Regions from separate parts of the Homo sapiens genome. Here region 1 is linked to region 2. Evidence: fine-mapped QTL for protein levels in blood plasma. A gene starts in region 2. The other region holds a variant in brackets. All regions are shown on one strand. Distances are between the middles of the regions.

Region 1 (5,372 bases), 15 kb after region 2:
GCCTCCCAAAGTGCTGGGATTACAGGCGTGAGCCACCACGCCCGGCCAGCCTGTTTTAAAAAATTATTTTATTTTCTACTTAAAATGTTATTAAGCAATAATCAAATATTTCTTACTCTGATTTCTTGGCCCCACTCCTCCTGAGGATTCTCTGCTTGAATTTTTCAGAGCAAGGGCGACCCCTGTCTTAGGAGAGGTAGGAGAGTGCCTCATGGACAGCATCTGGTTGTTCCTTCTCCCTGGCAAGGGGCCTGCCTCTCTTTTTCATACCTGAGATGACCGACAGCAGTAACATCTGACTTTGTCTTTTCCTTTCTTATTTGGGGCATCGCAGGCTACCTATATTTGCTGAAGGAAATCTTACACAAAGCTGCGATAATTCTAGCACAGAGCAAGAAATAGAGCCTAAGGAACAAACCACCCATTTTCTCTCCACTCGGTAAAAAATTATCTCTGGGAAATGAAATAGCCCAAGTCTGGCAGTTCCATGTTCTTCTTCTTTTTGTGTTTTAGAGACAGCCTTGCTTACTCACCCAGGCTGGAGTGCAGTGGCACAATCATGGCTCACTGTAGCCTCGAATTCCTGGGCTCAAGAGATCTTTCTACCTCAGCCTCCAGAGTATCTAGGACCAGAGGTGCACACTACCACGCCTGACTGATTTTTAATTTTATGTAGAGACTGGGTCTCTTTATGTTTCTCAGGCTGGTCTCAAATTCCTGGCCTCAAGAAATCCTTCCACCCCAGCCTCTCAAAGTGCTGAGATTACAGGCATGAACCACTGCCCCTGGTCCATGTTCTTCTTATATTGCTTTTCTAAAGTACTTCTTTTTGCAGATAGAGAAAGGCTTGTTAACTGGCCTCATGACTCAGCCTGCCAGGCACAATTGTCCATCGGCCCCAGCACAGTTGTATTTTTGTGTTTGTTTTGTTCTTTCCATAAATGATATACAGTATGTATCCTACGATTTGCTTTTCGTGCTTTTAATCCAGTTATATGTCTTGGAGATCATTTCATTTTATACTTCTAGAACTACTCGTTTCGTTAAATAGAGAATGGATGTGCAGAGGCTTTTTAGCCATTCTCCTGGTTCCCGAATACTTAGGTTGTTCCCAACAATGCACTATCGTAAGTGGTGTTGCATAAACATCTCATACTTCGCTGTGCATGTGGGAGTGTCTCTCTAGAATAAGTGCGGGGCATCGGAATCGCTGAGTCACAGGGTGTGCACATTTTTCACTTTAACAGATGCTGGCGAGTTGCCCTCCAGAGTGGCCCTACCAATTCACACTCCCACCAGCAGTGGAATGATAGCACATATTTCCTCACGTCCTGCCAGGCTTTCGTATTAGCAAACTGTTTTTGAGCATCTCATTGGAGGAAAGTGCTGTCTCATTGTTTCAGTGTGCACTCTTCCCATTCCCGGGGAGGCTGAGCGTCTTTCCATGATCGCGCTGTTTGTGTTTCCTCTTTTGTGACCAAGGCCTTTTTACCCTTATGTCACCACCAGTGTTCTGAAGTCCACCCTTGGCTCTCCCCCACAGCAATCTTGTCCTCCAGACCCAACCTGCATTGCCTCTGCCAATCACAGGGGTGCCAAACATGGTATACACTTGCCATCTGCCCTGGGGGCTGAAAAAAGCCTCGTGGTGACAGGGGAGATCTCTGCTGTCCCTCCCTTACTAATGTCAGGGGACTTCAGACCTCCACAGAGGGTGTGTCCTTTACCTCACTTGTCACACGGCAGCTGGGACTTGCGTGACCCCTAAACTCCTTCTGCTTCAGCATTTGATGACCCCCCAAACTGCACTGACCTCCAGCCCAAACTGAAGGGATCCCTGGTGCCTGTTGACTTTTACTGAGATGAAATGAATCATTTTAATAATTTAAAAATGTACAATTCAGTGGCTAGACTTTTACTGAGATAAAATGAATCATTTTCATCATTTAAAAATGTGCAATTCAGTGCTTTTACTATATTCACAAAGATGTGCAAATATCACAGATACATTTCTATTTTTGAAAAAGTTATAACTACCCTAGTTGGTGTGAAGTGGTATCTTATTGTGGTTTTGATTTGTATTTCACTAAGACTAATGATGTTGAGAATCTTCTTATGTGCTCATCGCCATTTGTATATTTTCTTTGGAGAAATGTCTGTTCAAGTCCTTTGCCCGTGTTTAAATTAAATTATTTGTGTCTTTTGTTGCTGAGTTGCAAGAGTTTTTTTTTTTTTCTTTTTGATATTATGAATTCTAGACCTTACTAGATAAGTGATTTGAAAATATTTTCTCTGGCCCGGGGCGGGGGCTCACACCTGTAATTCCAGCACTTTGGGAGGCCGAGGCGGGCAGATCACGAGGTCAGGAGATCGAGACCATCCTGGCTAACACAGTGAAACCCCGTCTCTACTAAAAATTAAAAAAAAAAAAAAAAAAAATTTAGCCAGGCGTTGTGGCGGGCGCCTGTAGTCCCAGCTACTCGGGAGGCTGAGGCAGGAGCATGGTGTGGAACCCGGGAGGCAGAGTTTGCAGTGAGCCGAGATCGCACAACTGAACTCCAGCCTGGGCGATAGAGCGAGACTCCGTCTCAGAAAAAAAAAAAAAAAAATTTATCCCATACTGTGGGTTGTCTTTTTACCTTCTTAATAGTGCCCTTTGATGCATAAAAATTTCACATTTTGGGCCGGGCATGGTGGCTCATGCCTGTAATCCCAGCACTTTGGGAGGCCAAGGCGGGCGGATCACGAAGTCAGGAGATGGAGACCAGCCTGGCCAATATGCTGAAACCCCGTCTCTTAAAAATACAAAAAATTAGCCGGGCGTGGTGG[C/T]GGGCGCCTGTAGTCCCAGCTACTCGGGAGGCTGAGGCAGGAGAATGGCGTGAACCCAGGAGGCGGAGCTTGCAGTGAGCAGAGATCACGCCACTGCACTCCAGCCTGGGAGACAGAGCGAGACTCCGTCTCAAAAAAAAAAAAAAAAGTTTCACATTTTGATGAAGTCCAGTTTATCTACTGTTTCTTTTGTTGCCTGTGCTTTTGGCATCATATTTGAGAAACTGTTGCCGAATCCAAACTCATACAGATTTTCACTTATATTTCCCTCTAAGAGTTTTATAGTTTTAACTCTTAAATTTAGTTCTTTGATTTATTTTGAGTTAAATTTTTTATCTGGTTTTAGGTAGGGGTCCAACTTCATTCTTTTACTTGTGGATATGCAGTTGTCCTAGCACTGCTTCTTGAAAAGACTATTCTTTTCACACAGAATGGTCTTGGCACCCTTGCTGAAATTAATTGACAATAGATGTATGGGTTGATTTCTGGACTCTAAATTGTATTCCATTGATCTGTATGTCTGTCTTTAGGTCAATACCATGGTTTTGATTACTGTAGCTTTATAGTAAGTTTCGAAATTGGGACTTCAACTTCGTTCTTCTTTTTCAAAATTATTTTGGCTACTCTGTGTCCCTTGCATTTGCATGTGAATTTTAAGATCAGCTTGTCCATTTATGCAAAAAAGAAGGCAGTTAGAATTTCGATGGGGATTGCATAGAGTCTGTAGATGAAATTGGGAAATATTGTTACCTTCAGTCCATGAACACAGATGTCTTTCCATTTATTTAGGATTTCTTTAATGTCTTTCAACAATGTTTTCTAGTTTTCAGTGTATGAGTCTTGCACTTTCTTTGTTAAATGTATACCAAGTTTTTTTTTTTTTTTCTCGAGACAGAGTCTCACTCTGTTGTCCAGGCTGGAGTGCAGCGGCCCAATCTCAGCTCACTGCAGCCTCTGCTTCCCAGGTTCAAGCGATTCTGCAGCCTCAGCCTCCCGAGTAGCTGGGATTATAGGTGCCTGCCACCACGCCTGGCTAATTTTTTGTATTTTTAGTAGAGACAGGGTTTTATCATGTCGGCCAGTCTGGTCTCGAACTCTTGACCTCAGGTGATCCGCCTGCCTTGGCCTCCCAAAATGTGGGAATTACAGATGTGAGCCACCGCACCTGGCCAATGTATGCCTAAGTATTTATTCTTTTTGATGCTATTGTAAATTGAGTTGTTTTTCCTAATTTCATTTTTTTTTTTTTTTGAGATGGAGTTTCGCTCTTGTTGCCCAGGCTGGAGTGCAATGGCGCAGTCTCGGCTCATTGCAATCTCCACCTCCTGGGTTCAAGTGATTCTCCTGCCTCAGCCTCCTGAATAGCTGGGATTACAGGCATGCGCCACACATGCCCAGCTAATTTTGTGTTTTTAGTAGAGACTGGGTTTTACCATCATGGTTAGGCTGGTCTCAAACTCCTGACCTCAGGTGATCCCGCCTGCCTCGGCCTCCCAAAGTGCTAGGATTACAAGCATGAGCCACTGTGCCCGGCCCCTAATTTCAATTTCATTTTCTTTCTTTCTTTTTTTCTTCTTCTTTTTTTTTTTTTAGACAGTGTCTCGCTCTGTCACCCAGACTGAGTGGGGAGTGCAGTGGTGCAACCTCGGCTCACTGCAGCCTGCACTTCCCGGGTTCAAGTGATCCTCCCACTTCAGCCTCCCGAGTAGCTGGGACTACAGGTGCATGCCATCATGCCTGTCTACTTTTTGTATTTTTTTGAAGACATGTGGTTTTGCCATGTTGCCCAGGCTGGTCTGGAACTCCTGGGCTCAAGTGATCCACCCGCCTTGGACTCTCAAAATGATTACAGGTGTGAGCCACTGCGCCCAGCCCCGAATTTCATTTTCAAGTTGCTCTTTGCCCATGTAGCAGTTGACATTTGAAGAAGGCAGTTGTTTTCTCCAGAGTTGGAAGGTGGCACCTTGAGGTGTAGGCGTGTTGCTATGACACCCTGTGGGCCGTTGCTGGGGCTCTCTTGTGACTTTTCTGAAGTCACGGATGGAGAGTTTGACTCTGTGACACAAAGGGAAACATGTCTGACTAATCTTTCCCACACTCCCTTTGCCTCTGATGGCTCCCTCGGCTAGGAGAGGAGAGGAAGAGAGTGGGTTGGTGGGGCCTCACCCTTTATTACAGGTGCTTCCTCTGACCCTTCTCTTCTGCAGGATTTTTGGGGCAGCTACTGAAGGGACAGGCACTCCCAAAGGGCAAGGGCTGTGGCAGCCTTCTCTTTTACCCATAAGTTGGCCAGAATTGATGCTGTCTACTTGTTTTTTTTGTTTGTTTGTTTTGTTTTGTTTTTTGGGAGATGGAGCCTCCCTCTGTCACCCAGGCTGGAGTTCTCTCACCCAGGCTGGAGTGCAGTGGCGCGATCTTGGCTCACTGCAACTTCTGCCTCAGCCTTGGGTTCGGGTTCAAACAATTCTCATGCCTCAGCCTCCCAAGTAGCTGGGACCCCAGGCACACACCATCATCCCTGCTTAATTGTTTTGTATTTTTAG
Region 2 (5,367 bases):
TCCTGGGCTCAAGGGATCCGCCTGCCTTGGCCTCCTAAAGTGCTGGGATTACAAGTGTGAGCCACTGCTCTGGCTTTTTGTGTGTGTGTGTGTGTGTGTGTGAAAAAGGGTTTTGCTCTGTTACCCAGGCTGGAGTGCAGTGATGTGAGCAGCCTGGACCTCTTGGGGACCTCTTGGGCTCAAGTGATCTTCCCATCTCAGCCTCCCAAGTAGCTGGGACTGCAGGTGCACTACCATGACCAGCCAATTTTTTTAGAGACAAGGTCTCACTATGTTGCCCAGCTGGTCTCAAGCTCCTGGGCTCAAGTCTCTACAAAATATGCAAATACCCTTCTGCCTTGGCCTCCCAAGTGCTGGGATTATAGGCATGAGCCACCACATCTGGTGTTGGTTTTTGTTTTTGTTTTTACGGGACCAGGCACTACAGCTCACACCTGTAATCCTGGCACTTTCAGAGGCTGAGACTAGAAGATTGCTTGAGCCCAGGAGTTCAAGGCTGTGGGGAGCTATGATTGCACCACTGCACTCCAGCCTGGGTGACAGAGCTAGACCTTGTCTCTAAACTAAACAAAACAAAACCCAGTACCAAGAGACCCAGTGACACCAAACACGTTTTGCAAGTAGGTAGTTTAATAGTTACAGTTACCTGGTTCTAAAAAGTGTCTTGCTAGAGAACATTTGTTCAAAGGGGCCACTTTAAAGCCTGCTATTCTAGTGTATACTGGCCGTAGTTTCTGAAATTGTAGCGAAGATGGAGAAATAATAACAGCATTCATAAGCACAACTGCAGATATTATACTTCTTAGTTTAAAAAAAACCTTTTTTTTTGGAACTATAAAATAAAAACACAGGCTACATACATACTCATTTTCTCAAATTGGCTTTTGTGCAAAAAAAGGTTGTTACCTATTGGGTTGCTTTGTTATTTCCTTAGAAAGATGTATTCCAAATTCCCAATGGCCAACCTGCACATGTGCACTCTGGGAACACAGTCAGTTTATTGGTTGGGGGTTGCTTGCCCGAAATCTGGGGTCATAGAGCCACTTCTCTCATTTTATTGTCTTGATCCTATCCATAGACCCGTTCTCACCAATCCCTCAAATTCTATTTATCCCTTTCCTGGAATACTAGATGTCTGCCCACGTTAATTCATGCCCCACCTAGGGTGCCGCATTTCCCAGCATTGGCTCCACTTGCTGTGAGCCTTGAAGAAGGCCAAAGCTTTGGCCCCGTCATCCTCCTTGCACCCCCAAACCCGTCACCAGCCTTGCTCCCCCAGATGCTTGTCCATCGTCCCCACCTACACACCCTTGCCCACCTCACCAGAGTTACAGTGCCGACAGCTCTCACAGTGGGGCCGGGTGTGGTGGTCAGGAGAGAAGGAGACCCCCGGTATGCAAGGATCACACTGAGCAGCCTTTCTATGCTGGTCACAGTCCTTCACGAGGAATGTTCCTGGGAGGAGAGGGTAAGGGATCAAGGCCTGAGAAGGGCTGGTTCTCTGCCCTCTTCAAGGTGGTGCCTCCCCACAGCTGCAGGATTTCCCTCCTTGCTTGAGCTCAGTCTCACCCTGCGCCTATTTACTGTATTAACCCCAGTCCTCTCTCTTTCGCCACTCACCTGGCCCTTACCAAGGCCCCCTCTTACCTGGCTCACACATCTGGCAGCACAGCTTTCCCTGAGCCCAGTAGTGCCTCTCTGGGCAGCTCTTGGGGGCTGGAGTAGCTGAGAGCCCCACCAGGGTCCCCAGAACGCACAGCCACCAGGGATGTGGCCGTGCCATGGTCCCTGCCCAGGCGGCTCCTTTCTGTGCCCAGTTGCTGATGCTGGCCTCTGGAGTTAGCACCTCCAAGCTGGGCGCTGCTGTCTCTTCTTTGCACCCCCTGGGCAGTGGCTGCTTCAGGTGGCAAGCCAACCTTTGAAGGCAGAATCTCTATTGTGGCTGTTTTTTTTTTCTCTCTCATAGCAGCAACCTCCACCCCCTTCCCCTTCCGTGTGCTGGGGAGAGTATTAAAGAGCAAACTCTGTGAGACCTGCTGCTCTTCAAACATGCTTCCTCCAACACATGAGCCTTCCTTAGTTTCCGCCTCTCCTGCTCATGAAGCACGTAGCCCACTGACTCCTGCTTCTTTGACAAAAAGGTGATGGACACACAGTTGCTCACCCCTCCTATTCATGCACTTGTGCACAAAGGTGCCCACGTTACCCCCCCCCACCCACCCCCCCGTCCACAGTTTACAGACGAATTCGCAGGACTCCTGTCTCCCATACCTGCATCCCTCCTTTCACAGACAACAGTTGAAAGAAGGAAGGAGAACCAGAATTGAGCACAGGTCCACAAGCTCTTATCTGAAACTTTGGGGGTCAGATAAGTTTTGGAATTCAGAATTTTTCAGGTTTATACAGAAACCAGCACCACAAAACACCCTTGGGGAGTTGGGGTAGTCTCATAATCAAACGCAACATTTCTGCAGCAAAACTATTGAATATTTACACCAACTGGGAGGAAGCTTAAATAGCCTTGTCTCAATTGAGGTCTGGTTTGATGGCCAAACGAGTTTGCTACAGAATGCTCAGAATTGCAAGCAAGGGGTGTAGAGCTGCCTCTCTTCTGTCACACTCTGACCGATCACCTATGCTCTCCTTTAATCCTCATGTCAGTCTCTGATGTGGGTGCCACCTACTGCCCACATGGCCTTCCCTCTCAGACCCTTGCTCACTCCTCACTTTTGTGCCATCTTTATCCTCCCCTTTCCCACCTCTGGCTGTGTCAGTCACTGGTGTCCTGGATCGCCTGGAGCATCTTCTCTCCTAGCCTTGGGCACTTGGGATTAAAGGTAGCTTCCTACGGGGGTCATCTCTTTTTTATTTTCCCAGTTCTCCCAGCAAGACTGATTTCGGGATATTGGAAACAGCTAGACTTTTCCCTCTTTGAGTCATGGGGACACACACGGGTCAACAGCCTCCTCCACTCTTTCCTCAGCAACCGATATGTGGAGTGGCTTATTTCCCCAGGAAGTTTTTAATTTAGGGGCTTTGCCGTTGTTTCCACACTGTTCATAAATGTCACACTGCTGTGGTCACACCTGTCAGATCTGTTCTCTATCTCACTCTGTAGTTTCCTTTCTCCTCATTTTCTCCATTCTCTTGTCTTTTCCCAGCCCCCTCTGCAGCTCTTCATGGGGGTCCACTCAAGTCAGAAGCCACATTTGGGTGTGATTCAGAGAGCTGTTTATGCAAAACCAGCTTTGTCACCATCAGGCAAGGCACCTGAATTCCCACCGCAGAGAGTGTTGTGGCCGTGAGGACTTTTCTGTCACCAGCCATTTCCAGGTTGTGGTAAATGTGTTCACTGCAGGCATGGGGCAGTGGGGTGGCTAGCTGACTGCAGGCCCTGGGAGGGTGGATGAGACCCTCAGAAGAATCATGAGGAACTGGGGACCTTTAGGAAGAAACTTGTCGAACAGGGACTTGCAGTTCGCTGAGCCTAGCAACCTTGAACCGACTGGGAACTGCTCACTAGCCTAACGCTGCTGTCCTCTGGGCCAAAGCCCATCTCCTCTTTTCTACATATCACTTCTCCAGGGGGTCAGAGCAGGAGCAGGGTCTGCCTGGCTTTCCTGGAGGGCCTCGGCCAAGAGGAGGAAGGCCAGGTTTCTGGACGTTTTTCTTTCCTAGGCAAATAGAATGAGCTCATCTCCAGCACTCTTTGCATCCACTTCTGGTGAGCCTTCCCCATCCTAGGCTGGCTCCCTGGACGGGACCTTCCTTTTTTTTTTTTTTCCTCCCTCCATTTCACTCTGTCACCCAGGCTAGAGTGCAATGATGCAATCTCAGCTCACTGCAACCTCTGTCTCCCAGGCTCAAGCCATTCTCACGCCTCAGCCTCCTGAGTAACTGGGATGACAGGTGCGTGCCACCACGCTCAGCTAATTTTTGTATTTTTAGTAGAGATGGAGTTTTGCCACGTTGGTCAGGCTGGCCTCAAGTTGATCCGCCCACCTTGGCTGGGATTACAGGGGAGAGCCACCGCGCCCAGCTTATTTTTTGTATTTTTAGTAGAGATGGGGTTTTGTCATGTTGGCCAGGCTGGACCAGAACACCTAGCCTCAGGTGATCTGCCTGCCTCGGCCTCCCAAAGTGCTGGGATTACAGGCACGAGCCACCATGCCTGGCTGGGCCCTTCCTTTTGTCTAGAGGCCCTGGGATGCAGCCCGCTGACATCTTCCTTGAAATCTCACACAACCACTTTCTCTTTTGGGGTCAGCCTCTCCCCCATGCCTGGCTGGGGCATAAAAACATATGGTATTTTCTCAACAGCTCCCTGCTTTTCTTTCCTTTCCAGAAACAGGCCCACAGCAGCCCTTCTTGAGAACTCTGAGGACTCTCATGACTTTTTTTGGTTCTTTTTTTTTTTTTTTTTTTTGAGAAAGGGTCTCTCACTGTTGCCCAGGCTGGAGTGCAGTGGCATGATCTCAGCTCACTGCAACCTTTGCCTCCCAGGTTCAAGCGATTCTTATACATCAGCCTCCCAAGTAGCTGGGATTATAGGCACCGGCCACCATACCCGGCTAATTTTTTGTATTTTTAGTAGAGACGGGGTTTCACTATGTTGGCCAGGCTGGTCTCAAACTCCTGGCCTCAAGTGATCTGCCCTCCTCGGCCTCCCAAAGTGTTGGGATTACAAGCGTGAGCCACTGTGCCTGGCCTCTCATGACTTTTGAGAGGGCCTGACCAACCCTCCACCTGGCCCAGTGACTGTAGCCTAGATGTCAGCCAGGGGCACCCTGCTCCTTAAAATCTAGATAAGATGCTCTTTGCTTCCCACTCAGGGCAAGTCCTGGGCAGGCTGTCCACCTGCATGAGTTCCAGTAGGTTGGGTGTTCTTGTGGCTGCCTCTGGCTCTGATTTCTCTTTCAGCTAAAGTCTTGTTCTTGCCTCCGTGTCTCCTGTCTGTTCCCTTACCTGTACCCTGCCTCAGGCCCAAATTGTTGGACACAAGACTTGCTTAAAGTTTCCTCTAAACCAGCTCTAAACAGAAGGCTGTTAGGTGTGGCAGACTTTGTCTTTTTTCTCCAATTTTTATGAATCAATAACCTGTTAAAGCGCTCAGCAGGACCAGTCTCTGCAAGACCTTTCCTTAGGAGGAAGTTCTGTTATGGGACAAAGATGTCCGCAATCACTGTTCCTGACTTAGGCTTCCTGAGTCTCATCACCTGAAGCTCTGAGTTTGTCTGGCCCTCTTTGTCCCCTGCTCCCCATTGCTTCCTCCCCGACTCCCACTTTCTTCGATGACCACCACCAGCACTGCTGCCCCCACCACCTTAAAGCCTCCTTCCCAGCAAGGCTTTGAGAGGCCACCTGGTC

What was found. PIP is the posterior inclusion probability: the model's chance that the variant is causal. The UK Biobank Pharma Proteomics Project read protein levels with antibody pairs (Olink). The fine-mapping took linkage between variants from a reference panel, not from the people measured, so its PIPs are less certain.
Region 1: its variant is fine-mapped to the plasma level of the CD27 protein (UK Biobank, PIP 0.95).

Annotation. Positions count from the first base shown.
Region 1 is chr12:6,426,589-6,431,960 of GRCh38, reverse strand. No RefSeq gene overlaps it. Among named protein-coding and RNA genes, the nearest start is that of CD27, 16 kb to the left of the region's middle. RefSeq lists enhancers at 4,744-4,983, 5,024-5,133. The variant C/T (reference allele first, on the strand shown) is at 2,830.
Region 2 is chr12:6,441,512-6,446,878 of GRCh38, reverse strand. CD27 (CD27 molecule) reads right to left here and starts at 1,924. Exons shown (of 6, transcript NM_001242.5): 1 at 1,648-1,924; 2 at 1,324-1,455. The coding sequence starts at 1,783. CD27-AS1 (CD27 antisense RNA 1) reads left to right here. Exons shown (of 6, transcript NR_015382.2): 5 at 3,162-3,333. RefSeq lists enhancers at 644-763, 1,473-1,652, 1,683-1,742, 1,287-1,788, 2,693-2,742 and 1 more and silencers at 3,823-3,902, 4,003-4,142.